Regions from separate parts of the Homo sapiens genome. Here all the other regions are reported to be linked to region 2. The links are microRNA targets in miRTarBase. Many come from high-throughput screens and were not tested one by one. Region 2 holds a microRNA gene; each other region holds the end of a gene's coding sequence.
The links. Region 2 holds the annotated microRNA hsa-miR-520f-3p (AAGUGCUUCCUUUUAGAGGGUU, at 4,690-4,711, opposite strand). A microRNA usually pairs through its seed, bases 2 to 8, with sites in the 3' UTR of a target mRNA and lowers its output. Matches are read on the target gene's strand: a 7mer-m8 pairs with bases 2 to 8, a 7mer-A1 pairs with bases 2 to 7 and ends in A, and an 8mer does both.

Region 1: miRTarBase lists IGDCC3 as a target of hsa-miR-520f-3p. Seed matches in the 3' UTR shown: 7mer-m8 at 3,914-3,920 and 7mer-m8 at 3,951-3,957.
Region 3: miRTarBase lists PAPLN as a target of hsa-miR-520f-3p. The part of its 3' UTR that is shown has no 7-base or 8-base seed match.

What each region holds. Positions count from the first base shown.
Region 1 is chr15:65,323,281-65,332,210 of GRCh38, reverse strand. IGDCC3 (immunoglobulin superfamily DCC subclass member 3) reads left to right here. Exons shown (of 14, transcript NM_004884.4): 7 at 105-270; 8 at 552-799; 9 at 997-1,161; 10 at 1,470-1,661; 11 at 1,814-1,918; 12 at 2,347-2,485; 13 at 2,614-2,821; 14 at 3,063-5,084. The coding sequence ends at 3,302. Among named protein-coding and RNA genes, the nearest start is that of RNU5B-1, 23 kb to the right of the region's middle. RefSeq lists an enhancer at 5,833-6,376.
Region 2 is chr19:53,701,564-53,712,217 of GRCh38, reverse strand. It overlaps MIR520C (microRNA 520c), which reads right to left and starts at 4,765; the gene lies at 4,679-4,765. MIR526A1 (microRNA 526a-1) reads right to left here and starts at 5,966; the gene lies at 5,882-5,966. It overlaps MIR518C (microRNA 518c), which reads right to left and starts at 3,483; the gene lies at 3,383-3,483. LOC107985346 (a long non-coding RNA gene) reads right to left here. Exons shown (of 5, transcript XR_001753998.1): 2 at 7,990-8,120; 3 at 7,373-7,448; 4 at 5,011-5,133; 5 at 3,909-3,949. It also overlaps MIR518B and MIR524.
Region 3 is chr14:73,270,608-73,281,261 of GRCh38, reverse strand. It overlaps PAPLN (papilin, proteoglycan like sulfated glycoprotein), which reads right to left. Exons shown (of 27, transcript NM_001365906.3): 27 at 6,639-8,767. The coding sequence ends at 8,598. It overlaps NUMB (NUMB endocytic adaptor protein), which reads left to right. Exons shown (of 13, transcript NM_001005743.2): 12 at 1,838-1,981; 13 at 3,969-6,046. The coding sequence ends at 4,684. Among named protein-coding and RNA genes, the nearest start is that of PAPLN-AS1, 30 kb to the right of the region's middle. RefSeq lists an enhancer at 4,234-4,734.

The DNA of each region.
Region 1 (8,930 bases), not on the chromosome of region 2:
CCTCTCACCCTGTGTATCTCCAGTCCCATCCCCTGTTCCCTTCCTCATGCCGTCACTCACAGCTGTGTCTGTCTGCGCCCCCACCCTCCTGACTCTACTCGCAGCCCCAGCTGAGTTTGTGCAGCATCCCCAGTCCATCTCCAGGCCAGCTGGGACCACAGCCATGTTCACCTGCCAAGCCCAGGGTGAGCCACCGCCTCATGTCACGTGGCTGAAAAATGGACAGGTGCTGGGGCCAGGAGGCCACGTCAGGCTCAAGAATAACAACAGGTATGTGTGTGGTGTGTGCTGGGGTGAGGACCAGGGGAGAGCAGGGAAAGCGGGGCCTGGAGTGAGTGGCCTGAGTAGGCTGTACACCTCCTGCCAGGGAAGAGCACAGAATTGGGAGTCTGGAGATTGAGGTGGAGTCCCAGTTCCACCACCAACTTGCTGGGAGACCTCACACAAGTCGTTTGTCTCCTGGAAAGACTCAGTTTCTCCATCTTTCAAATGGGGAGATTTGGTCAACCTCCAGGGAGGAGGGAACCTGAGGCTGTCTCTCTCCCCTGCAGCACACTGACCATTTCTGGAATCGGTCCTGAGGATGAAGCCATTTATCAGTGTGTGGCCGAGAACAGTGCGGGCTCATCACAGGCCAGTGCCAGGCTGACCGTACTGTGGGCTGAGGGGCTCCCCGGGCCTCCCCGCAATGTGCGGGCAGTCTCTGTGTCTTCCACTGAGGTGCGTGTGTCCTGGAGTGAGCCGCTGGCCAACACCAAGGAGATCATCGGCTACGTCCTGCACATCAGGAAGGCTGCTGGTGCGCGTGGCCAGCTCTGTTGCCCCTTCCTCTAATTCACTATTTCTTATTCCTTCCAATCCTGCACGTCGTGACCCGATGCCTCCCTTTCCTTCTCCCCGCTGTCCCCCCGGGCACCCTGGCTGCCCTCATTTCACCAATGCTGGCAGGACTCCCCCAGTCCTTCACACTCCCCTGCCCACCCTGTGCCTCTCCAGACCCACCGGAGCTGGAGTATCAGGAGGCAGTCAGCAAGAGCACCTTTCAGCACCTGGTCAGCGACCTGGAGCCCTCCACAGCCTACAGTTTCTACATCAAGGCCTACACACCAAGGGGGGCCAGCTCAGCCTCTGTGCCCACCCTAGCTAGCACCCTGGGTGAAGGTGAGGCCTGGGTGTGGAGCACAAAACCACAGGCACTCACTCAGGGTATCAGAGCAGAACCACCATGCACACTTGTTCTGGTTGTGCGCTGTGCAGGGTGCCCGGCCCTGAGGCTGTCAGGGCTGAGTCTACTTGGAGGAAAGGGCTTCTTTTTCTAATTCCTAGGAAGGTGCTGCTTTCATAAGCACATGCCCTTGGCCAGAGGCCAGAGGGCTGTCAGGCTTTTGGGGGTCGGGGTCACAGGTGGAAGGTAGAAAGATAGAGCTTCCACTGGGTCCTCACATCGTGGCCTCCTTCTCTACCTGCAGCCCCTGCCCCACCCCCACTGTCAGTGCGAGTCCTGGGCAGCTCCTCCTTGCAGCTGCTGTGGGAGCCTTGGCCCCGGCTGGCCCAGCACGAGGGCGGCTTCAAGCTGTTTTACCGCCCAGCAAGCAAGACCTCCTTCACCGGCCCCATCCTGCTGCCTGGAACCGTCTCCTCCTACAACCTCAGCCAGCTCGGTGAGGCAGACACAGCCCAGAGCCTAGGGGGCTTGGCAGAGTGCGGCGCTGAGGGCCAGGAGGTGGCGTACAGGGGTCACCTCCCTTTCCTGGCTAGGACAGGGCACGTGGTTGGGCAGGGGCAGTTGCTCATCCGCCCTGCCTTCCTCCAGACCCCACTGCAGTGTATGAGGTGAAGCTGCTCGCCTACAACCAGCATGGAGATGGCAATGCCACAGTCCGCTTTGTGTCTTTGAGGGGAGCATCTGAGAGGACAGGTGAGGGCTGGGGATGGAGTGCGGGGCTGAGTGGGTGGGAAGCCGGGAAAGTAATGGGGTGAGATAGCATGTGCCACGCTTGAAAACACAGGCTTAGACCACAGTTTGAAGCTTGGCCATGCACATGCTGGCTGTGTGACCTTGGTCAAGTTACTTAACCTCTCTGATCCCAGTTTTCTCTATAATACAGGGATAATAGTACCTACTTTACAAAGCTGTGGCAAGGATGAAATGGTCCATGCTATTCCTAGTATCTGGTAAAAAGAACCAAAAAGATTGGTCTGGAGTCCTGTAGGCAAAGTCAAAGGATGTTCCCACTCCCACTTGGGAGTGGGAGCAGCTGAAGGAAGAGGAGTCCCCAGAGGCTGGGTGTTTGGGAGTGCTTCAGACCTGGAGAGCCAAAGCCTCCAACCCGTCCCTGTCCCCAGCCTTGAGCCCACCATGTGACTGCCGGAAGGAGGAGGCCGCCAACCAGACGTCCACCACAGGCATCGTCATCGGCATCCACATCGGGGTCACTTGCATCATCTTCTGTGTCCTCTTCCTCCTGTTCGGCCAAAGGGGCAGGTGGGTCCTGGGCCAGGGAGAGGGGCTGGGCTGGTGTGTGGGGGACTAGGCCTAGAGAAGGTGAGTGTGGGCTCACTGCCTCTGTCTCTTTTCTCTCTCCCTCCCCCCAACTCTTGGCTAACCCTTAGGGTCCTCCTGTGTAAAGATGTGGAAAACCAGCTGTCCCCTCCACAGGGTCCCCGGAGCCAGAGGGACCCTGGCATTCTAGCCCTAAATGGGGCGAGACGGGGACAGCGGGGCCAGCTGGGCCGAGACGAGAAACGTGTGGATATGAAGGAGCTGGAGCAGCTGTTCCCCCCGGCCAGCGCAGCAGGGCAGCCGGACCCCAGACCCACAGTGAGTGCCCATGTCTTAAACAAACCCCCGCCTCAGGCTCTGACACTGCCACCTTCCAATCCTGCCCCCCTTCACCTTGGCCACGGGCCTCGATCATTGGCCTTAGTCAAACTGCAGGTCTTCTCTTTGTGTCCCTGAGTCAGGCAGGGAGACCTGGAGACCCTAAGGCCCAAGTGGGGTGAGTTGGAGCCTGGCGCCCTGGCCCTCAAGCTGACGCCTGTGTGACGGGCTCTTTCCCCAGCAGGATCCTGCAGCCCCCGCTCCGTGTGAGGAGACCCAGCTCTCCGTGCTGCCACTTCAGGGGTGCGGCCTGATGGAGGGGAAGACGACGGAGGCGAAGACCACAGAGGCCACGGCTCCCTGCGCCGGCCTGGCGGCTGCCCCACCACCCCCAGATGGAGGCCCTGGCCTCCTCAGTGAAGGCCAGGCTTCCAGGCCTGCAGCGGCCCGGGTTACCCAGCCAGCTCACTCGGAACAGTAGCCAGTGTCTGGCAGGCTCCAGAGGGTGGACGGAGCGGGGCCCATTCTCAGGTCAAAAGCAAGATTTCTACTGTCATGTGGGATTTGGATGGTCCTGGGGGCTCCCCAGCATTTCTATCCTGACTGCCTCTTGGGTTGTCAAAACCCAAGGCAGCCTTGACAGGGACCCCCCGGCCCTAACACCCATCAGGAGTTGGAGCAGTTCCTGCAGGAGCCTGTTCCTTCCCTGGGCTGACGCCCCCTTGCCTCTGCCTGGTACCCACATGACTTGGAACTGAACTAACATTTTTCTTTAAAAAGCAAAACTTAAAAAAAAAAAAAAAGAGGAGAGAGATAGAGGAAGGTGAATTAGACTCCAAAAGATGACCCTGCTGTAGCTGGGCCCTGACACTGTCACCCTCCACCGACTTTGTTTTCTCAGGATGGATTTTTGCTGTTTTGGCTCTCAGCACCTACCTCAGCCGGAATGAATGTCCTGGGGGGCAGTGGGGCGGTGGCCTCAGCCCCCTTACCCCACAGAGCCCGAATGCACTCCTACCTCAAGTCCCCTTGCTGGGGACCCCCTCTCCCTTCCCACACTGTTGTCCAGAGTAAAAAAAAAAAAAAAAAAAAAAGCACTTCCCCGTTTCCAGGTGTGAAAGAAAAAAAAAAGCACTTCCCCATTTCCAGATGTGAAAGAAAATGTCTACCTCAAGGCTCGCTGGCTCTGTGGGCTGTGTTGTCACTGGACCTGCCTCCCCGCCCCTCCTGCCCACAGCCCACCTACCTCTCCTGCAGAGGAGAGGCCAGAGGTTGGGCCACCAAGGGGAACTCTTGTGGCCTACAGAAATAGAAATGGATTGGGCAGAGAAAAAATGTGAAAGCAGCCAAAAATGAGAGGAAATTTGTTCCTTGAAGTATAAATTGTCCAAACGAGCCACCTCCCAGCACACCGCCTGTCCCCGTCTTGTCTGTCCACTCCCATTTTGAGCCAGCCCATCCTTGATGGGGATGCCCATGAGGAACCTGGGCTTGGGAGGGTGGCATCAGCTGGCCGCCTGCCTCCTGTCCTGCAGGCCCGGCCCCTGGAATGTACCATGTGTGGGATGGGTGTGTGGGAGGGTGAGGGGGTGTGGGTGTCCCCTGCAGAGGCGCCCCAGCCTCAGGCACCCAGCCAGCCTGATCCACCCCTCGACAGGGGAGCATCCACTGTCAGCAGCCATGGCCGGAAGCTATTTTTATACAAGGTGTGTTAAGGGTTATGTTCTTGTGACTTTTTGTTACTCTTTTCTGTTGTGTTGTTCTTTGAACTACTTAGTTAAAGAAGAAGAAAAGAAAACCAAGGAAACAAATACCTATTTTTGGTTATACTCAGAAACATTTTTTTAAATAGCAGAAGAAAAACTTTTTTTAAAGAAAAAAGATAAGTGTATTCCTTAAGAATGAGACCATAAATATCCCTGACCCCCAATCCTCTAGGGACACCTCCACCCTGAACTTTAGTTAATTAGCTGAAGAAGATAGAATTTGTGGTGTTTTCCTAGAAAACTAGAGCTGTGTCCGCGTGGACTTGGGGAAGGGTAGTCCCTTCCCTTCTCCCAAATGATGTGTGGATGCCCAGGGCTCCACAAAGCTCCAAGGCAGTGCCCCCTCTGTTCCCAAAGCAGCTTCTCTCGGGAGCCTCCCTCTCCCTTGGGAAGGGTGCGGCTGGGGCAGGAGGGGGCTGGGGGGCCACCTGGCCTTACTTGGGTTTTGTCACACTCTGCTCATTTTGACTGAATAAAAGTCCTGTTGCCAAAGTGAACCTGGAGTTTTTGGGTGGTTGTGTCAGGTCCTGGGGGAGGGGCTGCGGTGCTGGGTGGGCCAGGGCCCTCACAGGCCCAGAACCTGGGATAGTAACAGCAGACCCTATACACTACAGCTCTCTGCCACATGAGGTGCAGTTCCTGAGTCCTCACCCCTCCCTGTGACTAAGATATGCTAGTGACCGTCATCTCCATTTTATTTATTTTTTTGAGACAGTTTTTTACTCTGTTGCCAAGGCTGGAGTGCAATGGCACAATCTCAGCTCAACCACAACCTCTGCCTCCTGGGTTCAAGTAATTCTCCTGCCTCAGCCTCCTGAGTAGCTGGGATTACAGGAGTGCGCCACCACACCCAGCTAATTTTTGTATTTTTGGTAGAGACAAGGTTTCGCTATGTTAGCCAGGCTGGTCTCTAACTTCCGATCTCAAGCAATCTGCTCATCTCAGCCTCCCAAAGCGGTGAGATTACAGGCATGAGCCACCGTGCCTGGCTGGTCATCTCCATTTTATAGTTGATGAAACCAAGAAAAAAGAGGTGAAGGAAATGTCCACAATCCCACACAGGCAGTTGGTCAGTCTGATCCTCACACAGGATCCGAGTCTGTATCCAGGCCAGGCTGCCAGGTTCCAGGCTCTGCATTCTGACCACCGCCCCACCCCTCCTCGGCCAGCAGCGAGGCGGCTGCTCGCTCAGCCCGCCAAGGTTAAGCGCTCTCCAGGTGCTGGCCAGGCAGGGCTGTGTGCTTTTCACGCACTGTCTATGAGGAAGGACTGGTTTCCTCCCGGTTCTGAAGCTGAGGAAACAGGCTGTGACTGAGTGATTCCCTCCAGGGCACTCAGCCAGGACTCCGGCCAGGCCTCTCTGTTCTGCCATTGTCTCTCAGTCCAGGCTCCTGAAGCCAGTTGCCTGGAGCTGCTATGGCTTAGGTTCGAGAGAGGCTGGGCTTAATGGCAGTTATGCTGACAAAGATCCGAAGGTCTCAGCTGGCCTCAAGCTTAGTAAGAGGCAGCAGTATAATGCAGCTACTGCTGAATTTGAAAGCCTGGGTTCACACCCAGGAGGCTCAGCAGACCTGGAAAGCCAGGTTCTAAACCCAGGGGCACCTTTCGAGAGGAACGTACCAGGAGAGCAGTGGGTAAATTGGGCTCCCTGGCTATGGCTGGGGTGAGGGGGAGCTCTCTGGAGGGCCTCCTCACTCTCCCTACCCACCCTCACCCAGACCAGCTCAATATTTTTTCCCATATTTTTTCTGTCTTATTACATGTTGGCTTTTTTTTTTTTTTTTTTTTTTTTTAATTTGAGACAGAGTCTCACTTTGTCGCCCAGCCTGGAGTGCAGTAGTGCGATCTCGGCTAACTGCAACCTCCGCCTCCCAAGTTCAAGCAATTCTCCTGCCTCAGCCTCCCGAGTAGCTGGGATTATAGGCACCAACCACCATACCTGGCTAATGTTTTGTAGTTTTGGTAGAGACAGGGTTTTGCCTTGTTGGCCAGGCTGGTCTCAAACTCCTGACCTCAGGTGATCCACCTCCCTCAGCCTCCCAAAGTGCTGGGATTACAGGCGTGAGCCACTGTGCCGAGCCCATGTTGGATTCTTGATGAAATTTCACTTGAAAGCAGGATTGTGATCCTAAAAGAACATCTGAAGGTACCTGGCCAGGCACTTCCAGAAGAGGCCTGTGGATAGCTGGGCCCGAGGTCAGGTCAGGACCAGTGACGGTGCTAGGGATGCTGAACCAGGCAAGAGAGCGCTGAGGCCTATAGGGCGCCTATCCTGAATCTCCAGGGAGGTTGCTGACTTTCCCTGATTATCCCAGGAAAGAACTATCTCAAATATAGATATAAAACTCTTTCTTTACACGGCACTTTGCACACATAGATGTTTTAACAACTTCAGCCATCCAAGGGCAGCCTGGGGAGGTGATTGTTCAAGTCAACCCTGTGGGGTTGGGGGAGTAGACAAGTAACATCCAGTGCCCCTGTCCCTTCTAAGAGTCCCAGATGGGAGGTGTCTGGAAATGTTTAGAAACCACAAAATGGGCCAGGCGCAGTGGCTCACGCCTATAATTCCAGCACCTTGGGAGGTCAAGGTGGGCAGATCACCTGAGGTCAGGAATTCGAGACCAGCCTGGCCAACATGGAGAAACCCCCGTCTCTACTAAAACTACAAAAATTAGCCAGGCGTGGTAGTGCATGCCTGCAATCCCAGCTACTCGGGAGGCTGAGGCAGTAGAACTGCTTGAATCGGGGAGGCAGAGGCTGCAGTGAGCTGAGATCATGCCACTGCACTCCAGCCTGGGTGACAGAACGAGACTCTGTCTCAAAAAAAAACAAAACAACAACAACAAAAAACCCCACGAAAATAAGGCTGGGTGCAGTGGCTCACGCGTATAATCCCAGCATTTTGGGAGGCCGAGGCGGGTGATCACCTGAGGTCAGGAGTTCAAGACCAGCCTGGCCAACATGGGGAAACCCCATCTCTATTAAAAAATACAAAAATTACCCAGGCATGGTGGTGCCTGCCTGTAATCCCAGCTACTCGGGAGGCTGAGGTGGGAGAGTTGCTTAAACCTGGGAGGTGGAGGTTGCAGTGAGCCGAGATCACGACACTTCACTTCAGCCTGGGCAACAGAGCAAGACTCTGTCAAAAAAAAAAATAAAAATCCACCAAAATATGATCATGCAGATATATGCAAATTGTATACAAAACACAAACAAATGTAGGCAGGGCCTGCCCTAACCATCACAAGTCTCAGCCAGGCTTGGGTAGATGACAGAGCAGGGTTCCAGTGAGGAAGGTTAGCAGAAATAGGTGTCAAAGCTGAGTGGCCTGACTGGAATCCAGGTCCTGAGATCTCAAATAGCCCAGAGGCCTCAGGCTGAAGAACCCCGTCAAACCTCACTGTCCCCCACAAACTATCTTTGGGCAGAAATCTGCCACAACCAAGGCTGCAACCTGTTCCAATCATCTAAGGCTCTGTAACAAACAACCCTAAACCTTTTTTTTTTCTTTGAGACGGAGTCTTTCTCTGTCACCCAGGCTGTAGTGCAATGGCATGATTTCTGCTCATTGCAACCTCTGCCTCCCGGGTTCAAGCAATTCTTGTGCCTCAGCCTCCCGAGTAACTGGGATTACAGGCCCACACCACCACACCAGGCTAATTTTTTGTATTTTTAGTAGAGATGCGCTTTTGCCATGTTGCCCAGGCTGGTCTGGAACTTCTGAGCTCAGATAATCTGCCTGCCTCGGCCTTCCAAAATGCTGGGATTACAGGCGTAAGACATCACGCCTGGCAATTTTTTTTTTTTTTTTTTGAGACCAAGTCTCACCCTGTCACCCAGGTTGGAGTGCAGTGGCGTGATCTCCACTCACTGCAACCTCCCCCTCCCAGGTTCAAGCGATTCTCCTGCCTCAGCCTTCTGAGTAGCTGGGATTATAAGCACCACCATGCCCAGATAATTTTTTGTATTTTTAGTAGAGACGGGGTCTCACTGTTTTAGCCAGGATGGTCTCGATCTCCTGACCTCGTGATCCACCTGCCTCGGCCTCCCAAGGTGCTGGGATTACAGGTATGAGCCACCATGCCCGGCCTTTTTTTTTTTTTTTTTTTTTTTTTTTTAAGAGACAGGGTCTCACTGTGTTGCCCAGGCTGGAGTGCCGTCAAACCTTGGTGGTTTCACATCACATTTATTTGGCTTACAAATATGCAGTCTGGGCAGGGCTCAGGGGCAGCTGTCTCTGCTCCACTCTGCATCAGCGTGGGCAGCTTGAAGCCTGGGGGCTGGGATCCCCTGAAGGCTCCCTCCCTCCCGCGTCTGGTGGCTGATGCTGGCTGTGAGCCCAG
Region 2 (10,654 bases):
GTGGTGGGATCTCGGCTCATGGCAACTTCTGCCTCCTGGGTTCAAGCGATTCTTCTGCGTCAGCCTCCTGAGTAGCTGGGATTAGAGGCACCCACCACCATGCATATTGCATATATGACTGCATATATGACCTGGTCATGCACCCAAGATGTTGGTTTCATTTCCCCAGTGAAAACTCAAACCCCATGCACTCCACCTCCGTGCTCTTGCTGAGCACATCCCATCTGCAAGGGACACTGAGGTCCCCCTTTGACTCTACCTGACCCCACATGAGGCTTTATAAATCAGTGCCAGAATAATTTCCATGGACTAAAAGGTGTTAATGGCCATGTGTGGTGGCTCACGCCTGTAATCTTAGCACTTTGGGAGGCTGAGGTGGGCAGATCACCTGAGGTCAGGAGTTCGCAACCAGCCTGGCCAACATGGTGAAACCCCGCCTCTGCTGAAAATATAAAAATTAGGCCAGGCGTGGTGGCTCATGCCTGTAATCCCAGCACTTTGGGAGGCAGAGGCCGGTGGCTAACTTGAGGTCAGGGGTTTGAGACCAGCCTGGCAAACATGGTGAAATCCCATCTCTACTAAAAAAAAAACAAAAAACAAAAAACAAAAAGTAGCCAGGTGTGGTGGTGGGCTCCCGTAATTCTAGCTACTCAGGAGGCTGAGGTAGAAGAATTGCTTGAATCCGGGAGGCAGAGGTTGCACTGAGCAGAGATCACGCCTCGGCCCTCCAGCCTGGGTAACAGTGAGACTCCATCTCAAAAACATAAATAAATGAATTTTAAAAAATGAAAATATTATCCAGGTGTGGTGATGGGCACCTGTAATCTCACCTACTTGGGAAGCTGAGGCAGGAGACTCGCTTGAACCTGGGAGGTGGAGGTTGCAGTGAGCCGAGATCACACCACTGCACTTCAGCCTGGGTGATAGAGAGACTCTGTCCGCTAAAAAAACCATTTGAATCCAAAAGACCTAGGTTGGATGTGCCACCGCACTCCAGCCTGGGCAACAGAGATCCTGTCTTAGAATAAAAAAGCAAAACCAAAACAGAACCCCGCCATCGTCCAAGCCTCATGATAAGCATGCTCTACAAATGTATTACCGAGATAAGCATCAACTTCAACGCTGCTTTTCTCAAACCGTAACACTCCAAAGGGAAGCGCCTTCTTTTCCTTTGGACAAGAGAAAGTGCTTCCCTTTGTAGGGTCACAGCATGAGATCTTCTTGCTCCAGAACTCTGGGTTTTTTGTTGGAATTTTCCTTGCCCAGGTTAAAATGGACACAAAAATGAGGATGCATTTATTGGCCCTGTTTGCATGTTTTCTGGAATCCAGAACATAAACCCCTAAAATGACCATCTCCAGTTCCTTGCTACAAAGAATAAGCAGGTTAGCCTTATCCCTAATCCCAGCACTTTGGGAGGCCGAGGTGGGCGGATCACCTTAGTTCAGGAGTTCAAGGCCAGCCTGCCCAATATGGTGAAACCCTGTCTCTACTAAACGTACAAAAAAATTAGCTGGGGTGGTGGTGTGTGCCTGAAAATCCCAGTTACCCGGGAGTTGGGGAAGGAGAATCACTGGAACCCGGGAGACAGAGGCTACAGTAAGCCGAGATTGCGCCACTGTACTGCAGCCTGGGCGACAGAGCAAGACTGTTTCAAAAAAAATAAATAAATAAAAATAAAAAAAATTTAGTGTCAGGGACAAGGAGATTCAACTAAAAAGATACAAATAAATAGAAAAAATAAGAACATTGTATTAATATTGACATCCATTGGGATTACAGAATAGACTGGATAGATGTGGAGGCCTATATTTTTTGTTTTGTTTTGTTTTGAGATGGAGCCTCGCTCTGTCGCCCAGGCTGGAGTGCACCTGCGCGATCTTGGCTCACTGCAACCTCCGCCTCCTGGGTTGAAGAGATTCTGCTGCCTCAGCCTCCTGAGTAGCTGGGATTACAAGCACGCACCACCACGCCCACTTAATCTTTGTATTTTTAGTAGAGACGGGGTTTCACCATATTGGTCAGGCTGGTCTCGAACTCCTGACCTCCTGATCCGCCTGCTTCAGTCTCCCAAAGTGCTTGGATTACACACCTGGCCCTTACTCTCCTAATGAAGGAAACATGGTTTGGATTGATTAAACTAAACTGATGAAAGGCCTGTATTTGAAGTGACCAACCCAAATGGAGCCTCAGGAACCAGATGGCATGTAATCTGCGTTTTTAAAGAGATGGGATCTTGCTATGTGGCCCAGGCCGGAGTGCAGTGGCTATTCAAAGGTGTGATCAGTGCATGGTATAGCCTTAAAATCAAAGGACCCTCCCACCCTAGCCTTTGCAGTAACTGGGACCCTGTGTGTCCCAGGATGCCTGGCCGTGTCACCTATCTTTGAAATGGGACAAGGTGGCTCACACATTTAGGATCACTTAAGCTCAGCTGAGACCATCCCAGGCAAAAGAGACCCCATCTCTACCAAAAATTAAAACCTGAGCCCAACTACTTGCGAGGCTGACAAGAAGACCACTTGAGGCTGGACGTGGTGGCTCACGCCTGTAATCCCAGCACTTTGGGAGGCCAGGGAGGTGGATCACTTAAGGTCAGGAGTCGAGACCAGCCTGGCCAACATGGCGAAACCCTTTCTTGTCTAAAAATACAAAAATTGGCAGGGTGTGTTGGTGGGTGCTTGTAATACCAGCTATTTGCGAGGCTAAGGTGAAAGAATCACTGGAACTCCACGGTGAGTGGAGATCCTGCCACTGCACTCCAGCCTGGGCGACAGAGGTGGGAGTTACAGTGAGTGGAGATCCTGCCACTGCATTCCAGCCTGGGCGACAGAGCCAGTCTCCATCTCAAAATAAAATAAAATAAATAAAATAAAACAAAATAAAATAACAGGCTGGGCACGGAGGCTCACACCTGTAATCCCAGCACTTTGGGAGGCCGAGGCGGGTGGATCATGAGGTCAGGAGTTTGAGACCATCCTGGCCAACGTGGTGAAACCCGGTCTCTACTAAAAATACAAAAATTAGCTCGGCATGGCGGTGCGTGCCTGTAATCCCAGCTACTCAGGAGGCTGAGGCAGGAGAATCGCTTGAACCACGGAGTCGGAGGTTGCAGTGAGCTGAGATTCCGCCACTGGACTCCAACCTGGTGACAGAGCGAGACTCCGTCTCACACACACACAAAAATAAGAATTAATAATAATAATAGAGCAAGACATGACCCCAAGAGATCTAGTTTGGAGTGCAACCCCTCCCTCTCCAGCCTGGGCAACAGAGACTGGTCTTGGAAAAAAATAAAACCAAAACAGAACCCTGCCGTCATCCAAGCCTGATAAGCATGCTCTGCGAATGTATTACCAAGATCAGCATCAACTTCAACGTTGCTTTTCTCAAACCGTAACACTCTAAAGAGAAGCGCTTTGTTTTCTTTCAGACAACAGAAAGTGCTTCCCTCCAGAGAGTCACAGCATGAGATCTTCTCGCTCCAGCCATCTGGGATTTTTGTTGAAATTTTCCTTGACCAGGTTAAGATGGACACAAATATAAAGATGCATTTATTCGCTGTTTGACCGTTTTCTGGAATCCAGAACATAAACCTCTAAAAGGACAATCTCCAGGCTCAGCAGATTAGCCTTGTTCATCAAGGGGAATCCTCCTAAGTTTTGTCTCCAAGGAGAAAAAGCAATGCCCACTACACATACCTTACCTTTAACCAAGAGAATTGAGGTGGATTTCTAGAGAACAGCAATGGATTGAGTCACATGGTCACTTGAGTTCCAGCACAGGGACACACAGTCATGATGGGAGCATCCAAAATGGAATCTAAATTTGCCAGGCGTGGTGGTGCCCACCTGTAATCCCAGCTACTCAGGAGGCTGAGGCAGGAGAATTGCTTGAACCCGGGAGGCGGAGGTTGCAGTGAGACGAGATCGTGCCAATGCACTCCAGCCTGGGTGACAGGAAAGAAAAAAAGAATATGCATTGTCTTACACACAAACATTCTCCAGGATAGAGCACTGCCTAGGCCGTAAAAGCTCCTCAATAACATTTGTACAGAAGTACGGGTGGAGTGCAGTGGCTTACACCTCTAATCCCAGCACTTTAGGAGTCGAAGGCGGGAAAATTACATGAGCTCGAGTTCAAAACTAGCCTGCCCAACATAGTAAAACCTCATCTGTAAAAATACAAAAGATAGCCAGGTGTAGTGGTTCATGCCTGTAGACACTAATTCAGGAGGCTGAGGTGGGAGGTAGAGGCTGCAGTGAGTTGAGGTCACAACACTGCACTCCAGCCTGGGCAATAGAGCCAGATGGTGTCTCAAAAAAAATTAAAAAAAAAAAAAATACACAAACAAAAACAACCCCAAAGTGATATAAGAGTATTCTCTGTGTGCAGAAGACTATTTTGTGTGAATATAATTATACATAGAAGATTATATGATAACATGTATATATTTTGGAGACCCTGTCTCAAAAAAACAAAGTTCCATGTACTATATGCTCACATAAAGAATAATTCCTACATACTAGTGCTTGGGCAGCAAGAACGAAACTCCATCTCAAAAAAAAAAAAAAGAAAAAATCAAAACAAAAACAGAAGCCCACCATCATCCATCTCTGATGATAAGCATGCTCTGAAAATGTATTACCAAGATCAGCATCAACTTCAATGTTGCTTTTCTCAAACGGTAACCCTCTAAAAGGAAGCACTTTCTTTTCTTTCAGACAACAGAAAGTGCTTCCCTCTAGAGGACGACAGCCTGAGATCTTCTTGCTCTGGCACTGTGGATTTTTTGTGGGAATCTTCCTTGACCAGGTTAAAATGGACGCAAAAATAAAGATGCATTTATTTGCCCTGTTTGCATGTTTTCTGGAATCCAGAGCATAAATCCCTAAAAGGACCATCTGCAGTTCTTTGCTTCAAAGAATCAGCAGGTTAGCCTTGTTCATCAACGGGCAATCCTCCTGAGTTTTGTTCCCAAAGAGAAAAGGCAATGCCTACTACACATACCTTATCTTTAACCAAGAGAATTGGGCTGGATTTCTAGAGAATAGCAATGGATTTTGAGCCAAGTGGTCGCTTGAGTTCCAGTACAGGAGCGCACAGTCCTCATGGGGGCATCCGAAATGGAATCTAAGATGTTGAAGAATATACACTGTTGTAGGCACAAACATCCTGCAGGGTAGACAACAGGCTACCCTGTAAACGCTCCTCAATAAAATCTGAGCAGAAACAGACGAGTATAGGTGGGGCACAACAGCTCACACCACTAATCCTAGCACTTTAGGAGGCCAAGGTGGAAGATCACCTGAGCTAAGGAGTTCGAGACCAACCTGGGCAACATGGGGAAACCACATCTGTACAAAAAAACCAAAAGTTAGCCAGGTGTGGTGGTGTATGCCTGCAGACAGCTATTCAGGAGGCTGAGCTGGGAGTTGGAGGTTGCAGTGAGCCGAGATCGCACCACTGCACTCCAGCCTGGGCGACAGAGTGAGACTCTGTCTCTAAAATGAATAAGTTAAAAAATAAATACATAACAATAATACAAAAATTAGCTGGGCGTGGTGGCATATGCCTGTAATCCCAGCTGCTCGGGAGGCTGAGGCAGGAGAATCATTTGAACCTGGGAGGCAGAGGTTGCAGTGAGCAAAGTTCCTGATACTGAGCTCCAGCCAGGGTCACAGAGCAAGACTCTGTCCCAAAAAAGAGGGCCACTTGAACCCAAGAGATCTAGGTTGGAGGGGCCACCATACTCCAGCCTGGGCAACAGACACCCTGTCTTAGGAAAAAAAACCAAAAAAACCCCACAAAACCCCAACATCATCCAAGTCTGATTATAAGCATGATCTCCAAGATCAGCATTAACTTCAATGTTGTTTTTCTCAAAGAGTAATCCTCTAAAAGGAAGCGCTTTCTCTTCTTTCAAGCAACAGAAAGTGCTTCCCTCTAGAGGGTCACAGCCTGAGCTCTTCTTGCTCCAGCACTGTGGGTTTTTTGTTGGAATTTTCCTTCACCAGGTTAAAATGGACACAAAAATGAGGATGCATTTATTGGCCCTGTTTGCATGTTTTCTGGAATCCAGAACATAAAACCCTAAAAGGACCATCTCCAGTTCCTTGCTTCAAAGTCTCAGCAGGTTAGCCTAGATCATCGAGGGACAATCCTCCTGAGTTCTGTCTCCAGAAAAAGCATTGCCTACTACACATACCTTACATTTAACCAAGAGAATTGGGCTGGATTTCTAGAGAACAGCAATGGATTTTGAGCCAAGCGTTCACTTGAGTTCCAGCACAGGGACACACAGTCCCGATGGGAGCATTCAAAACTGAATCTCCCATGTTGAAAAATATACATTGTTGGCCGGGCGCAGTGGCTTATGCCTGTAATCCCACCACTTTGGGTGGCTGAGGCGGGCGGCTCACATGAAGTCAGGGGTTTCAGACCAGCCTGGCCAACATGGTGAAAAAAAAAATACAAAAGTAACCGGGCGTGGTGACGGGTGCCTGTGATTCCAGCTACTCAGGAGGTTGAGGCAGAAGACTTGCTTGAACCTGAGAGGCAAAGGTTTGAGTGAGCCGAGGTCCTGCCACTGCCCTCTGGCCTGAGTGACAGTGAGACTCCATCTCAAAACAAATAAATACATGAATAAATAACATGCAAATATTAGCCAGGCATGGTGTCAGGCACCTATAATCCCAGCTACTCAGGAATGTGAGGCAGGAGAACTGCCTAAAACTGGGAGGTGGAGGTTGCAGTGAGCTGAGATCACGTCACTACACTCCAGCATGGGTCACAGAGCAAGACTGTCCGAAAAAAGAGGACCATTTGAGCCCAAGACACCTAGGTTGGAAGTGCCAACACACTCCAGCCTGGGCAAGAGACCCTATCTTAGAAAAACAACAACAACAAAACAGGACCCCACCATCCTCCATGTCTGATGGAAGCACGCTCTGCGAAGTTATTACCAAGATCAGCATAACTTGTTGGGAGGCCAAGGTGGGCGAGTCACCTGAGGTCAGGAGTTCCAGACCAGCCTCGCCAACAAGGTAAAATCCCAGCTCTAAAAATACAAAAAAAATTTTGCCAAGCGTGGTGACACGTGTCTGCAATTGTACCTACTTGGGAGTCAGAAGTTGCAGGAGCAGAGACTGGGCCGCTGCACTCCACCCTGAGGGACAGAGTGAGATACTGACTCAAAAAAAAAAAAAAAAAAAAATTGCTTGAACCCAGGAGGCAGAGGTTGCAGTGAGCCGAGATCACATTATTGCACTCCAGCTTGAGTGACAGAGTGACACTGCCTCACAAAGTCAAAGACAGAACAAAAGAACCCTCCTTGCCCTCTTCTTGCCTGTGCATAGATTAAAATATTCACCTGTAGTCCCAGATACTAGGAAGAGGAGAGGGAGAGAGCACATTCTACCCTGGGCGGCATAGCGAGACCTCCGTTTCTAAAATACAAAAATTAAATCAATTGTACATTGATGACGTGCTCATGTGCCCTACATTTCAGCTTCATTTACCCAATAGAAACTCAAAGCCCACGCACTCCACCTTTGTGCTCTTGCTACGTAGTGAACATCCCACCTGCAAGGGACACTGAGGTTCCCTTCAGCTCTACCTCAACCCAAGTCAAGGGAGGTTCTGTAAACCAGTGCAGGCATAACTTCCACGGAGTAAAAGGTGTTGAGGGCTGGACGAACAGGCATCGCTCACTACGGCAACAACGAGAGCTGCGGCGCATCCCACCTGTTACTAGAGAGGCCCTTCTAGGGTCCTCAAGGTTTTTGTGAAAAGTATCTGTGGTTTTGTCCCATGTGACAATTATCACTGCCACTGAGACTCATCTTGTCTACCATAGTTTGTTTCTCATATTAGCCACAGCCAACATTTCACAGCTTACCAAGCAACTAGCCTTTAAATGCGAGGTACCTTGGGTTCATTACCCGAAGAAAATAGCATAATCAGGGAAGCTGCAGTCAAAGAACTCACCGGGGCTGGCGTGAGTGGGTGGCGGTTGAATCAACTACACCCTTCCTGCAGAGAAAGCAGCTCTATTCCGAGAAACGACGGCAAGTTGTTGGAGAGAAAAAAATTTCAGTGTCAAGGACAAGAAGATTAAACTAAAAAGACACAAACAGGAAAAACAAGAAAATTTTGTTAATATGGACATCCATTTGAGATTACAAATTAAGATTGGATAGACTTGAAGGCTTACTTACCTTTTTTTTAAGTCCAGCTCAGTCGCCCAGGTTGGAGTGCAATGGTGCAATCTCAGCTCACTGCAACCTCAGCCTCCTAGGTTCACGCCACCACACCCGGCTAATTTTTGTATTTTTAGTAGTGATAGGGTTTCACCATATTGGCCAGGCTGGTCTTGAACTCCTGACCTCAGGCGATCCGCCTGCCTTTGCCTCCCACAGTGCTGGGATTACAGGCATGAGGCACCATGCCCCGGCTACTTACTCTCTTAATGAAGGAAATGATTTCGATTGATTACACTAAATTGATGGGAGACCCATTTCAAATAACCAACCCAAATGGAGCCTCTGTAACCAGGTGCCATGTAATCTGTTTTTAAAGAGATGGGATCTTGCTATGTTGGCCCAGGCTGGAGCGCAGTGGCTATTCGAAGGTGTGATCAGTGCATGGTACAGTCTGGAAATCAAAGGTCCCTCCGACCCTGGCCTCTGCAGTGGCTGGGACTGTGTGCCCCACAATGCCTGGCCATGTCAACTCTCTTTGAAATGGGTCATCAAGACGAGGTGGCTCACACGTGTAGGACCACATAAGCTGTGGAGATGAGACTATCCTGGGAAAAAGAGACCCCAATTGTACCAAAAATTAAAAACTTAGCCAAGTATGGTGGCACGCCCCACGTAGTCCCAACTACTTGAGAGGCTGACTCAAGAGGACCACTTGAGGCTGGGCGCGGTGGCTCACGCCTGTAATCTCAGCACTTTGGGAGGCCAGGGAGGAGGATTACTTAAGGGCAAGAGTTGAGATGAGCCTGGCCAATATGGTGAAACCCTTTCTTGTCTAAAAATACAAAAAGCAGGGCATGGCGGTGGGTGCTTATAATTCCAGCTACTCGGGAGGCTGAGGTGGGAGAATGTCTGGAACCTGGGAGGCTGTAGTTGTGGAGATCCTGCCACTGTACTCCAGCCTGGGTGACAGAGTGAGACTCCATCTCAAACAATTAAAAAAATGAAATAAAAAGAAGACCATCTGAGCCCAAGAGATCTAGGTAGAAGTGCCACCGCACTCCAGTCTGGGCAACGGAGACCCTGTCTTAGAAAAAAACAAAACCAAAACAGAACCCCACCATCGTCCACGTCTGATGATAAGCACGCTCTGCAAATGTATTACCAAGATCAGCATCAACTTCAACGCTGCTTTACTCAAACCGTAAACCTCTAAAGGGGAGCGCTTTGTTTTCTTTCAGACAACAGAAAGCGCTTCCCTCTGGAGGGCCACAGCATGACATATTCTTGCTCCAACACTGGTTTTTTGATGTTGCTGTTGGAATTTTCCTTGACCAGGTTAAAATGGACACAAAATAAAGATGCATTTATTTGCCCTGTTTGCATGTTTTCTGGAATCCAGAACATAAACCCCTAAAAGGACCATCTCCAGTTCCTTGCTTCAAAGGCTCAGCAGGTTAGCCTTGTTCATCAAGGCGCAATCCTCCTGAGTTTTGTCCCCAAAGAGAAAAAGCAATGCCTGCTACATATACCTTATCTTTAACCAAGAGAATTAGGCAGGATTTCTAGAGAACAGCAATGGATTTTTGAGCCAAGCGTTCACCTGAGTTCCAACATAGGGACACACAGTCCCGATGGGAGCATCCAAAATGGAATCTAAATTAGCCAGGCGCCCACCTGTAATCCTAGCTACTCAGCAGGCTGAGACAGGAGGATCGCTGGAACCCAGGAGGCGGAGGTTTCAGTGAACCGAGATCATGCCATTGCACTCCAGCCTGGGTGACAGAGTGAGACTCCGTCTCCAAAAAATAAAAATAAAAAAAAAGAATATACATTGTCATACACACAAACATTCTCCAGGATAGACTACTGTCTAGGCCGTAAAAGCTCCTCAATAAAATTTGAACAGAAATACACAAGTACAGGTGGGGTGCAGTGGCTCACACCTGTAATCCCAGCACTTTAGGAGTCGGAGGCAGGAGGATTACTTGAGCTCAGGAGTTCAAGACTAGCCTGGGCAACATGGTGAAACCTCATGTGTCCAAAAATACAAAGGTTACCAGGTGTTGTGGTTCATGCCTGCAGATGCTAACTCAGGAGGCTCAGCTGGGAGGTAGAGGTTGCTGTGAGCCGAGGTCACAACACTGCACTCCAACCTAGGTAATAGCGCCAGACTGTGTCTCAAAAAATATTTAAAAAATACACAAACAGAAACAACCCCAAAGTGATATAAGAGTATTCTCTGTGTTGGCCGGGCACAGTGGCTCACGTCTGTAATCCCAGCACTTTGGAAGGCCGACGTGGGTGGATCATGAGGTCAGTAGTTGGAGACCAGCCTGGCCAACATGGTGAACCCCATCTCTATTAAAAATACAAAAATTAGCCAGTGTGGTGGCTCATGCCTGTAATCCCAGCTGCTCTGGAAGCTGGGTCATAAGAATGACTTGAACCTG
Region 3 (10,654 bases), not on the chromosome of region 2:
ATGAAAAAAAAAAAAGAGGCTCAGAGAGGATAAGTAAATTGCCCAAATCTTACAGACAGGATTTAAACTCAGGTCCTCCTGAATATAGTACCCGTTACATTCTGCTGATTCTGCCAGCCTACAAGGCACTAAGTGTGCAAAATTGAATATTTCAGTTTCCTTTCCCTGCCTTTAGAGGGCTCCCAGTTTCTAGGTGAAAAAAAAAATTTTTTTGCCACCAAAAAAGCAAAGGCAGTCTTTTAGACAAACTCTAGGTAAACAGTACCAACACCGGCTGGGTGCGGTGGCTCACATCTGTAATCCCAACAGGGAGGCTGAGGCAGGCGGATCACCAGAGGTCAGGAGTTCGAGACCAGCCTAGCCAACATGGTGAAACCTCGTCTCTACTAAAAATACAAAAGTTAGCCGGGCATGGTGGCAGGCACCTATAATCTCAGCTACTCGGGAGGCTGAGGCAGGAGAATTGCTTGAACCTGGGAGCCGGAGGTTGCAGTGAGCCGAGATCACACCATTGCACTCCAGCCTGGGTGACAAGAGCGAGACCCCATCTCAAAAAAAAAAAAAAAAAAAAAAAATAGTACCAACACCATAGGCATGGCTGTCCAGTCCTAAAAAGGATATAATTATATTGTAGGTCAGGGGAGGGTGCTTGTCTACACCAAACTGAATGTTATTGAGAGCTGGGCTAAGGAGAAGAAACTAATATAGGTATCTGGAGTAAAAGGAACAAGGGTTAGCAGATTTTAACAAGGGGAGATGAGGAAAGAATAGTAGGTATGTTGTGATATTGTAAACATCATAGAGGGGGAAAAAAATCTTTGTTAAAAAATGTTCTGTGAGTTACCAGGAGAGTTAAAAAAAAAAAACCTTCAAAAAAAGTTGAAATTAATTGTGTAGCAAATTAGAAATCTATCAAGCAAATGAAAACATACCAACTTCGATTTCTCATCTGTAATAGGGGGATAATACCAGACTCGTAGGGTTTTTGAGATAATTAAATGAAATGATGCATGTAAAATATTAGCTTAATGACTAGCACATAATAACGAATCATATATACATTTTAACTTTTGAGGAGGAAACAAAGAGTAATTTTTTTTTGTTTGAGATGGAGTCTTACTCTGTTGCCCAGGCTGGAGTGCAGTGGTGTGATCTAGGCTCATTGCAACCTCCGCCTCCCGGGTTCAAGTGATTCTCCTGCCTCAGCCTCCCTAGTAGCTAGGTTTACAAGTGCACACTGCCACACCCAGCTAATTTTTGTATTTTTAGTAGAGACGGGGTTTCGCCACGTTGGCCAGGCTGGTCTCGAACTCCTGACCTCAGGTGATCCACCCACCTCGGCCTCCCAAAGTGCTGGGATTACAGGCGTGAGCCACCACACCTGGCCTATTTTTAACCAGTATTATTGTTAACATAATCTGACCTTTTGGAAAAGTGAAGAAGAGGGAAATGCTATACCTACTTCATTATGCCGAAGGCTAAGCTATATCTAGAATAGTTAGATATTTTTTGCTGCTCCTAAGACGCAGCAGCTCTGTTCACCTTAATTTGAAATTGTTTTCGTAGGTTTCATTTCCCCACTCCCCATGCACATATTTTCCTAGAACAGTTATTTGACTTTATCTATACAACCATTTAAAAATTACAATCTCTGATTGCTTCTTTGCCTAATGGTATGTACATCCAATGCAAGATATCATGGTTTTCCCAAACATCAACTCTTCTCTCTTATCCATTCCACCAGTATTGTACATTCACCTGACTGACACAGCTCCAAGGGGTCACTTGTACACCCTGCATGAATTAACTCCATTGATGTTGTCTGCTCCCGTTGTAGCTAATGGCACTGACTCAGCCTTCCATGTGCTTGCTAAGCCAGCCCATACTGCTCTAGCACCCGTAGCAATGCCTGTGCGTGAAACCAACCCTTGGGCCCATGCCCCTGATGCTGCTAACAAGGAAATTGCAGCCACATGTTCGGGTAAGGTGGCCACAGATGGTGTTGAGGATTCTGGGATCAGATAAGTGACCCTGGTTCTAAAACTCAGCCAGTTAGCTGAGTGGGAACTAGGGAGGAATCCTTTCAGGAAAACTATGTTCCCTCCTAGAAATAAGTTGCTTACATAAGAAAGGATGGTGAAGGAGAACAAAAGAGATCAGACTGATAGTCATTAGGACTGTGGAACAGGACTGTGGAACAGAGCCCCACCCATAGAGCTTTTATAAAATACAGATTCCGGCTGGGTGTGTTGGCACATGCCTGTAATCCCAGCACTTTGGGAGGCTGAGGTGGGTGGATCACGAGGTCAGGAGATGGAGACCATCCTGGCCAACATGGTGAAACCATCTCTACTAAAAATACAAAAATTAGCCAGGCGCGGTGGCATGCGCATATAGTCCCAGCTACTCAGGAGGCCGAGGCAGGAGAATCGCTTGAACCTGGGAGACAGAGTTTGCCGTGAGCCAAGATTGCGCCACTGCACTCCAGCCTGGGCAACAGAGCAATACTCTGTCTCAAAAAAAAAAAAAAAAAAAAAAAAGATTCCAGGGCCCCACCTCAGAGAATCCATCACCGGATTTGGTGATGTGCAGACATTCCTGTAGAAAGAGGGGGCCCTGCTCCTACAATAGGAGGCCTACAAAAAGTGCTAGAAAAAGCACTTCATTTTTGCTTTTTTGTACTTTCTAGTTTTGTATAAAAAACATCTATTAATTATAAAACCAAAAAGTTTTTTTTTTTTGGAGGTGGAGTATTGTTCTGTCACCCAGGCTGGAATGCAGTGGCATGATCTTGGCTCACTGCAACCTCCATCTCTCAGGTTCAAGCAACTCTCCTGCCTCAGCCTCCCGAGTAGCTGGGACTACAGGTGCATGCCACCATGCCCAACCAATTTTTGTATTTTTAGTAGAAATGGGGTGTCACCATGTTGGCCAGGCTGTTTTCGAACTCCTGACCTCGTGATCCACCCGCCTTGGCCTCCAAAAGTGCCGGGATTACAGGTGTGAGCCACCACACCCGGCCTCAAAAGGTTTTAACATAGTAATAAAGGCAGTTCACCAAAAAGACAACATATTTCTGGAAGCCAGGCAGAGGCCAGCAAGATATGGCCAGGTCACTGGTTATTTTCTTTTTGCTCTGTTAGAGCAGAAGATGAATTGCCTTGGGCCCTTTAGAGGATGTGCAAGCTAGGTGTTTTTTTTTTTTTTTTTTTTTTTGAGACGGAGTCTCGCTGTGTCACTAGGCTGGAGTATCTTGGTTCACTGCACCCTCTGCCTCTCAGGTTCAAGCAACTCTCTTGCCTCAGCCTCCCGAGTAGCTGGGACTACAGATGCATACCACCACGCCCAGCTAATTTTTGTATTTTTAGTAGAGACGGGGTTTCACCATGTTGGCCAGGATAGTCTCGATCTCTTGACCTCAGGTGATCTGCCCACCTCGGCCTCCCAAAGTGCTGGGATTACAGGCATAAGCCACTGCACGTGGCCTTTTTTTTTTTTTAAGACAGAATTCTCACTGTGTTGCCCAGGCCAGAGTGCAGTGGCACAGTCATAGCTCACTGCAGCCTCCAGCTCTTGGGCTCAAGTAGTCCTCCTGCCTCAGCCTCACAAGTAGCTGGGATTACAGGTGTGAGCTACCACAACCAGCTAGTTTCTGTATTGTGGATGAGCCATAGCAACAGCGAGGGGTTTCTGACATCAGTCAGCTGCCGTGGTTTAATGCATTTGAGCCATATCTAGACAGTGCTTCAGTGTGGCTGACACAGCAGCATGGTCTTGACAAGTTTTCTTCATCCTACCACAAAATCCCAGTTGGTAATAGAGACTTTACTCCTACCTATCAAAACCACAAAATGTCCCATTAGGGGGGGACATGTTGTACATGTTAGGATCATTCAAATAACCAAGATTATAAGGTGAGGAAAGATGCCCCTAACTGATTCTTTTGTCTCTCATCTTGTTGGTTCCAGGGACCGAGTGGGGTCAATCTTCTGGTGCTGCCTCTCCAGGTCTCTTCCAGGCCGGTCATAGACGTACTCCCTCTGAGGCCGACCGATGGTTAGAAGAGGTGTCTAAGAGCGTCCGGGCTCAGCAGCCCCAGGCCTCAGCTGCTCCTCTGCAGCCAGTTCTCCAGCCTCCTCCACCCACTGCCATCTCCCAGCCAGCATCACCTTTCCAAGGGAATGCATTCCTCACCTCTCAGCCTGTGCCAGTGGGTGTGGTCCCAGCCCTGCAACCAGCCTTTGTCCCTGCCCAGTCCTATCCTGTGGCCAATGGAATGCCCTATCCAGCCCCTAATGTGCCTGTGGTGGGCATCACTCCCTCCCAGATGGTGGCCAACGTATTTGGCACTGCAGGCCACCCTCAGGCTGCCCATCCCCATCAGTCACCCAGCCTGGTCAGGCAGCAGACATTCCCTCACTACGAGGCAAGCAGTGCTACCACCAGTCCCTTCTTTAAGCCTCCTGCTCAGCACCTCAACGGTTCTGCAGCTTTCAATGGTGTAGATGATGGCAGGTTGGCCTCAGCAGACAGGCATACAGAGGTTCCTACAGGCACCTGCCCAGTGGATCCTTTTGAAGCCCAGTGGGCTGCATTAGAAAATAAGTCCAAGCAGCGTACTAATCCCTCCCCTACCAACCCTTTCTCCAGTGACTTACAGAAGACGTTTGAAATTGAACTTTAAGCAATCATTATGGCTATGTATCTTGTCCATACCAGACAGGGAGCAGGGGGTAGCGGTCAAAGGAGCAAAACAGACTTTGTCTCCTGATTAGTACTCTTTTCACTAATCCCAAAGGTCCCAAGGAACAAGTCCAGGCCCAGAGTACTGTGAGGGGTGATTTTGAAAGACATGGGAAAAAGCATTCCTAGAGAAAAGCTGCCTTGCAATTAGGCTAAAGAAGTCAAGGAAATGTTGCTTTCTGTACTCCCTCTTCCCTTACCCCCTTACAAATCTCTGGCAACAGAGAGGCAAAGTATCTGAACAAGAATCTATATTCCAAGCACATTTACTGAAATGTAAAACACAACAGGAAGCAAAGCAATCTCCCTTTGTTTTTCAGGCCATTCACCTGCCTCCTGTCAGTAGTGGCCTGTATTAGAGATCAAGAAGAGTGGTTTGTGCTCAGGCTGGGGAACAGAGAGGCACGCTATGCTGCCAGAATTCCCAGGAGGGCATATCAGCAACTGCCCAGCAGAGCTATATTTTGGGGGAGAAGTTGAGCTTCCATTTTGAGTAACAGAATAAATATTATATATATCAAAAGCCAAAATCTTTATTTTTATGCATTTAGAATATTTTAAATAGTTCTCAGATATTAAGAAGTTGTATGAGTTGTAAGTAATCTTGCCAAAGGTAAAGGGGCTAGTTGTAAGAAATTGTACATAAGATTGATTTATCATTGATGCCTACTGAAATAAAAAGAGGAAAGGCTGGAAGCTGCAGACAGGATCCCTAGCTTGTTTTCTGTCAGTCATTCATTGTAAGTAGCACATTGCAACAACAATCATGCTTATGACCAATACAGTCACTAGGTTGTAGTTTTTTTTAAATAAAGGAAAAGCAGTATTGTCCTGGTTTTAAACCTATGATGGAATTCTAATGTCATTATTTTAATGGAATCAATCGAAATATGCTCTATAGAGAATATATCTTTTATATATTGCTGCAGTTTCCTTATGTTAATCCTTTAACACTAAGGTAACATGACATAATCATACCATAGAAGGGAACACAGGTTACCATATTGGTTTGTAATATGGGTCTTGGTGGGTTTTGTTTTATCCTTTAAATTTTGTTCCCATGAGTTTTGTGGGGATGGGGATTCTGGTTTTATTAGCTTTGTGTGTGTCCTCTTCCCCCAAACCCCCTTTTGGTGAGAACATCCCCTTGACAGTTGCAGCCTCTTGACCTCGGATAACAATAAGAGAGCTCATCTCATTTTTACTTTTGAACGTTGGCCTTACAATCAAATGTAAGTTATATATATTTGTACTGATGAAAATTTATAATCTGCTTTAACAAAAATAAATGTTCATGGTAGAAGCTTTTGCCCATGAAGGGCTGTTCTTTCCCCTTTCCTTTATTAGTAAATGAATTTATTTTTCGTTCTTTTGGTCTTACTCTCCATTCTACTGCTGCTGTAAATCCCTAGTTTAGTGACTAGAAAAATACCCTTAAGATTCATATTTTCATTCATACTTTAATCCTGAGTGTATCTCTAAAGTCAGATTCTTGCTGCTCAAAGTGTGGTCTGTAACAGCAGCATGGACTTCACCTAGGAGCTGGTTAGAAATGCAGAATCTCAGCGGGGTGGGGCAGTGCTTCTCAACCTGGGCTATGCAATAGAATCACCTGAGGATATCTTTTTAAAATCCTAACGCCTGGCCTATATTCCAGACCAATTAAATCAAAATTTTAGTGGGGCAGGGGGACCCCCCAGGTTGTGTTTTTTTTTTTTAAGCTCGCAATATGGTAAAGTTGAGAACCACTGGCCTAGAATGAGTTTTACCTCTAATCTTAGCCCACTATTCTGTGACTGGTTCTATTAGAACTAGTTAGCTGCTAGCTAACCTCAAACTTACCTTCTGATGTGTTTATACCAATAGGCCAAAATCTGGTTTAATTAAACTGGGGATTTCAAAAAAGTGGCCTTTATTTTCCAATTTCTATAGCAAAACCAGCCATAAGTGAACATGGATGCTCTTCAATATTTTTCCAGTATTAAATGAAAAAAGACCTCTGCCCCAGCCCACATTTCCTTTGTTGAATGAGTAGAGAAGACTGAGAAGTATCACTCACCCGTGATGTGGTTTGTCCCTTTTCCAGCCAGTGTGTTGGTAATAAAAGTCACCTTTCAGAGCTTTGGTCCCTGTAATGCCCGTCTTTCCTGTGTCCAGGAATAACCTTTGCTACTAGGCAGTCCTCTGAAAGATTTGTAGAAGGTTAAAGTGGAAAGGGACTTGGAAGCTCATAGAATCCATGCCTCTTCTTTTAGCATCAAGGAATTAGAAGTCCTGAGAGATGAAGAATGTTGTCTTCCAACTCAAACCATTTCTGAAGCCATTTCCCTGTTACTGCATTGCCCACAACCCTTCCCCATTGCTATCCTCATCCTGCTAATGCTGTTTTTAATGACTGACAGTCTGATTTGTCTTTGGCAGCAAACATTTTGCTTCACAGATTCCTACTTAAGGAAGAGAGGGGCTCCTCATTGTCACTGTACAGAGCAGGCTGGTCAGCTTTACACAGGTGTCAGATGAACCGTCACAGCCAGATTTGCATGTTGGCCTCAGGAGGGCTTCAAGGTCCAACATCTCGACGTAAGGAGCGTTTCCAGTTCTTTCATGCTCAGATAACAGTGCTAACTGCAGCTGTTTCATCCCAAATCCCTATTTGAGGTCTTAACATCTATTCCATTTTGCCAACAAGGGTTATGCTGTTAACCCTCTGCACCAGATTTAGAGCTGACTGATGCACTGCCTAGAAGGGTGAGAGAGACTAGAGCAATGAACCATCGCTGATTTTAGCACAGAATACTTCCCTGATACAGCAGGACTTGGCATGCCCTTTAGAAAACAAACAGGTGTTAACTTTGAAATCATTACACATCTCCCTGCCCAGCTTTAAATTAAGTGGAACCCTGACAGCTAGCTTTAAAACACATTGATGGGCTGGGCACAGTGGCTCACACCTCTAATCCCAGCATTTTGGGAGGCCGAGGCGGGCGGATTACCTGAGGTCGGGAGTTCAAGACCAGTCTGACCAACATGGAGAAACCCCGTCTCTACTAAAAATACAAAATTAGCCAGGCATGGTGGCACATACCTGTAATCCCAGCTACTCAGGAGGCTGAGGCTGGAGAAGCGCTTGAACCCAGGAGGTGGAGGTTGCAGTGAGCCAAGATCGCACCATTGTACTCCAGCCTGGGCAAGAAGTGCGAAACTCTGTCTCAAAAAAAAAATAAAAAAAATGCATTGATGGCTGGGCGTGGTGGCTCATGCCTGTAATCCCAGCACTTTGGGAGGCTGAGGCGGGCAGATCATCTGAGGTCAGAAGTTCGAGACCAGCCTGGCCAACATGGTGAAACCCCATCTCAACTAAAAATACAAAAATTACCCAGGCATGGTGATAGGCATCTGTAATCCTAGCTACTCAGAAGGCTGACACAGGAGAATCAAGAACCCAGGAGACGGAGGTTGCAGTGAGCTGAGATCGCGCCATTGCCCTCCAGCCTGGGCAACAAGAGTGAAACTCTGTCTCAAAAAACAAACAAACAAATGCATTTAACTATTCCTGTGTAACAAATTATAAAGGGAAGCTGTAAAGTAAAGGTTTTTCTTATCCAAACAGATTGCTCTTCTTGAAAACAGCAGCCTGTGGTTATGTCAGAGATGCAAACACTGCTGAAGGCTACAGAGAGAAGCTGGTAACTGGCTGCCGTTGAGGCTAAACACTGGGTGGGTTTTTGAAAGAGCTAATGTATTCCAGAAGATAACTCCCTTTGCCAGCCAGAGAGAGGAAGCCAAGAGTCCATCTTCCTTTCTCCCTAGCCCTATGAACTATTTTGGACTGGGGCTGGAACTAGCCTTCATCCCTACTGCCAGATGGGCTGAGCGTGAGGCTGGAAACGTGAACAGCTGGCACAGCAGAAGCTGGAGTAATACTCATTGCCACAAAGCTGGGCCTGCAGGATCAAATCACAGTTGGCCAGCTCTGGCTGGTCGACGCAGTCCCTGCCAGGGTCCCTGGGCTGGGCGGTGGGTGCTGCAGAACGACAGGGGAGAGAGAAGGTGGTGAGGAAGCTCTGTGTATGCTGAAAATTCTCACCTGCCATTTCATTTCCTTCAAAGGAACACAGCATTATAACTGCCAGATTGAAAACGAAGTGCACTTACCCTGTAACCTTTTAACCATACGTACAAACTCTATGAGGGATGATGATTTCTACCTGTTTCTTGGCCTCACTTCAACATGCAGTGGTCCTCCCATTATTATTTGTGGCCTCAGCCCACTGAATAGCTCTTCCTAGACTCCCAAATATTTATTGACTGGATAATTAAACATCTCTTGAAGTTAACTCCTTATGTTTGAGACCTGAATTACTAAATGACAACTGTTCTTGCCTCTGGATTGGGAGAGCAGGTAGGATCAGCCCCAAGTAAAATTTTGAGTTAGCAAGAGCTCTTATCTTTTCCCTTTCTCTGCTGGGTTCCTCCAACCATCAAAGTTTTGTCCCTTCAATATCACCAGCTTATCTTAGTCACCTGGGTCCTCATCCTTCCAGTTTTTCACTTTCCCCAGAGGAAGCAATGCATATTAGACAAGGTAATAGGAAAACAGTCCTGTTAACGGTGGCTCTAATACTAACTACACTGAGAACAAAGCAAAGCCCTTGTTTTCTCTCCCTCTGAATTTACTAGGAACGTCTGTATCTCATAACTCCCTATTAAGTTTCATTCAGCTGGGTGTGGTGGCTCATGCCTGTAATCCCAGCACTTTGGGAGGCCAAGGCGGGCGGATCACGAGGTCAGGAGTTTGAGACCAGCCTGGCCAATATGGTGAAACCCCATCTCTACTAAAAATGCAAAAATTAGCCAGGCATGGTGGCGTGCCCCTGTAGTCCCAGCTACTCGGGAAGCTGAGGCAGAAGAATCGCTTGAACCCAGGAGGCAGAGGTTACAGTGAGCTGAGACCACACCACTGCACTCCAGCCTGGGTGACAGAGCAAGATTCTGTCTTAAAAAAAAAAAAAAAATTTCATTCTACTGCTTCATCTCTCTTCTGGAAGGGGTTCTTAAAACTCAGCTGACTTAGACCAGAGTGGTACCTTCCCTGAAGTCAGACCTCAAGCAGCCAGAGAAAGCTTATCTTTCTCTCTCCCCTTGTTTACTCACAAAATACCACTAAAAGACTGTACCTAGCAGCGAACAACCTTACAAACGTTTGGTATATTGGTATAACCAGACTATTACCTACCTAAATTTATATAGATAACAAAGCCATTAATGCATATTGTTTCTAAAAATCTGTAACTTTGGTATCAACTCTGAGCTGGTACAGCCCAAGACCCATCATAGTGGGAACTCAGCATAGTGATTAAGCACACCAGCTCTGGACCCATACTGCCCGGGCTCAATCCGGGCTCTGCCACTTGCCAGCTGGGTAACTCTGGGCAAGTTGCTTAAGCCCTTTATGCACATTTCTTCATCTGTGAAATGGGACTAATAACAGCAACAGCAACCTACTTCACAGCGATGTTGAGAAGTCCTCCCAGTAGAGCTATGTCCCTTTTACCTCAGCCTGACCACCCCAAGGCCTCCTACCCTGGTGCTAACACTGAAATTCAATGTGCCACCCAACCATGAGTAGGGCAGGGTCAGGCAGCCGCACACCGTATGACCCAACAAAAAATGAACAGGTGAGAGCAGCCAGCAGAGGACCGGAGGAGAGTGGCCAGACTGAGGCCATGTCTGTCCCATCTGGGACACACATCTCAGGCCATTTCAGCGTGGTGACCAGGTATCAGGCAAGTTTCTCATTGTAGTTTGGTTTTCCATGTAATCCCATCTGGAGCTAATCGCAAACATAATGTCTAGGTCCTCTTGACAGTTCTCTCACTGTGAATCTGCATTTTGCTTTGTCACACAGCCT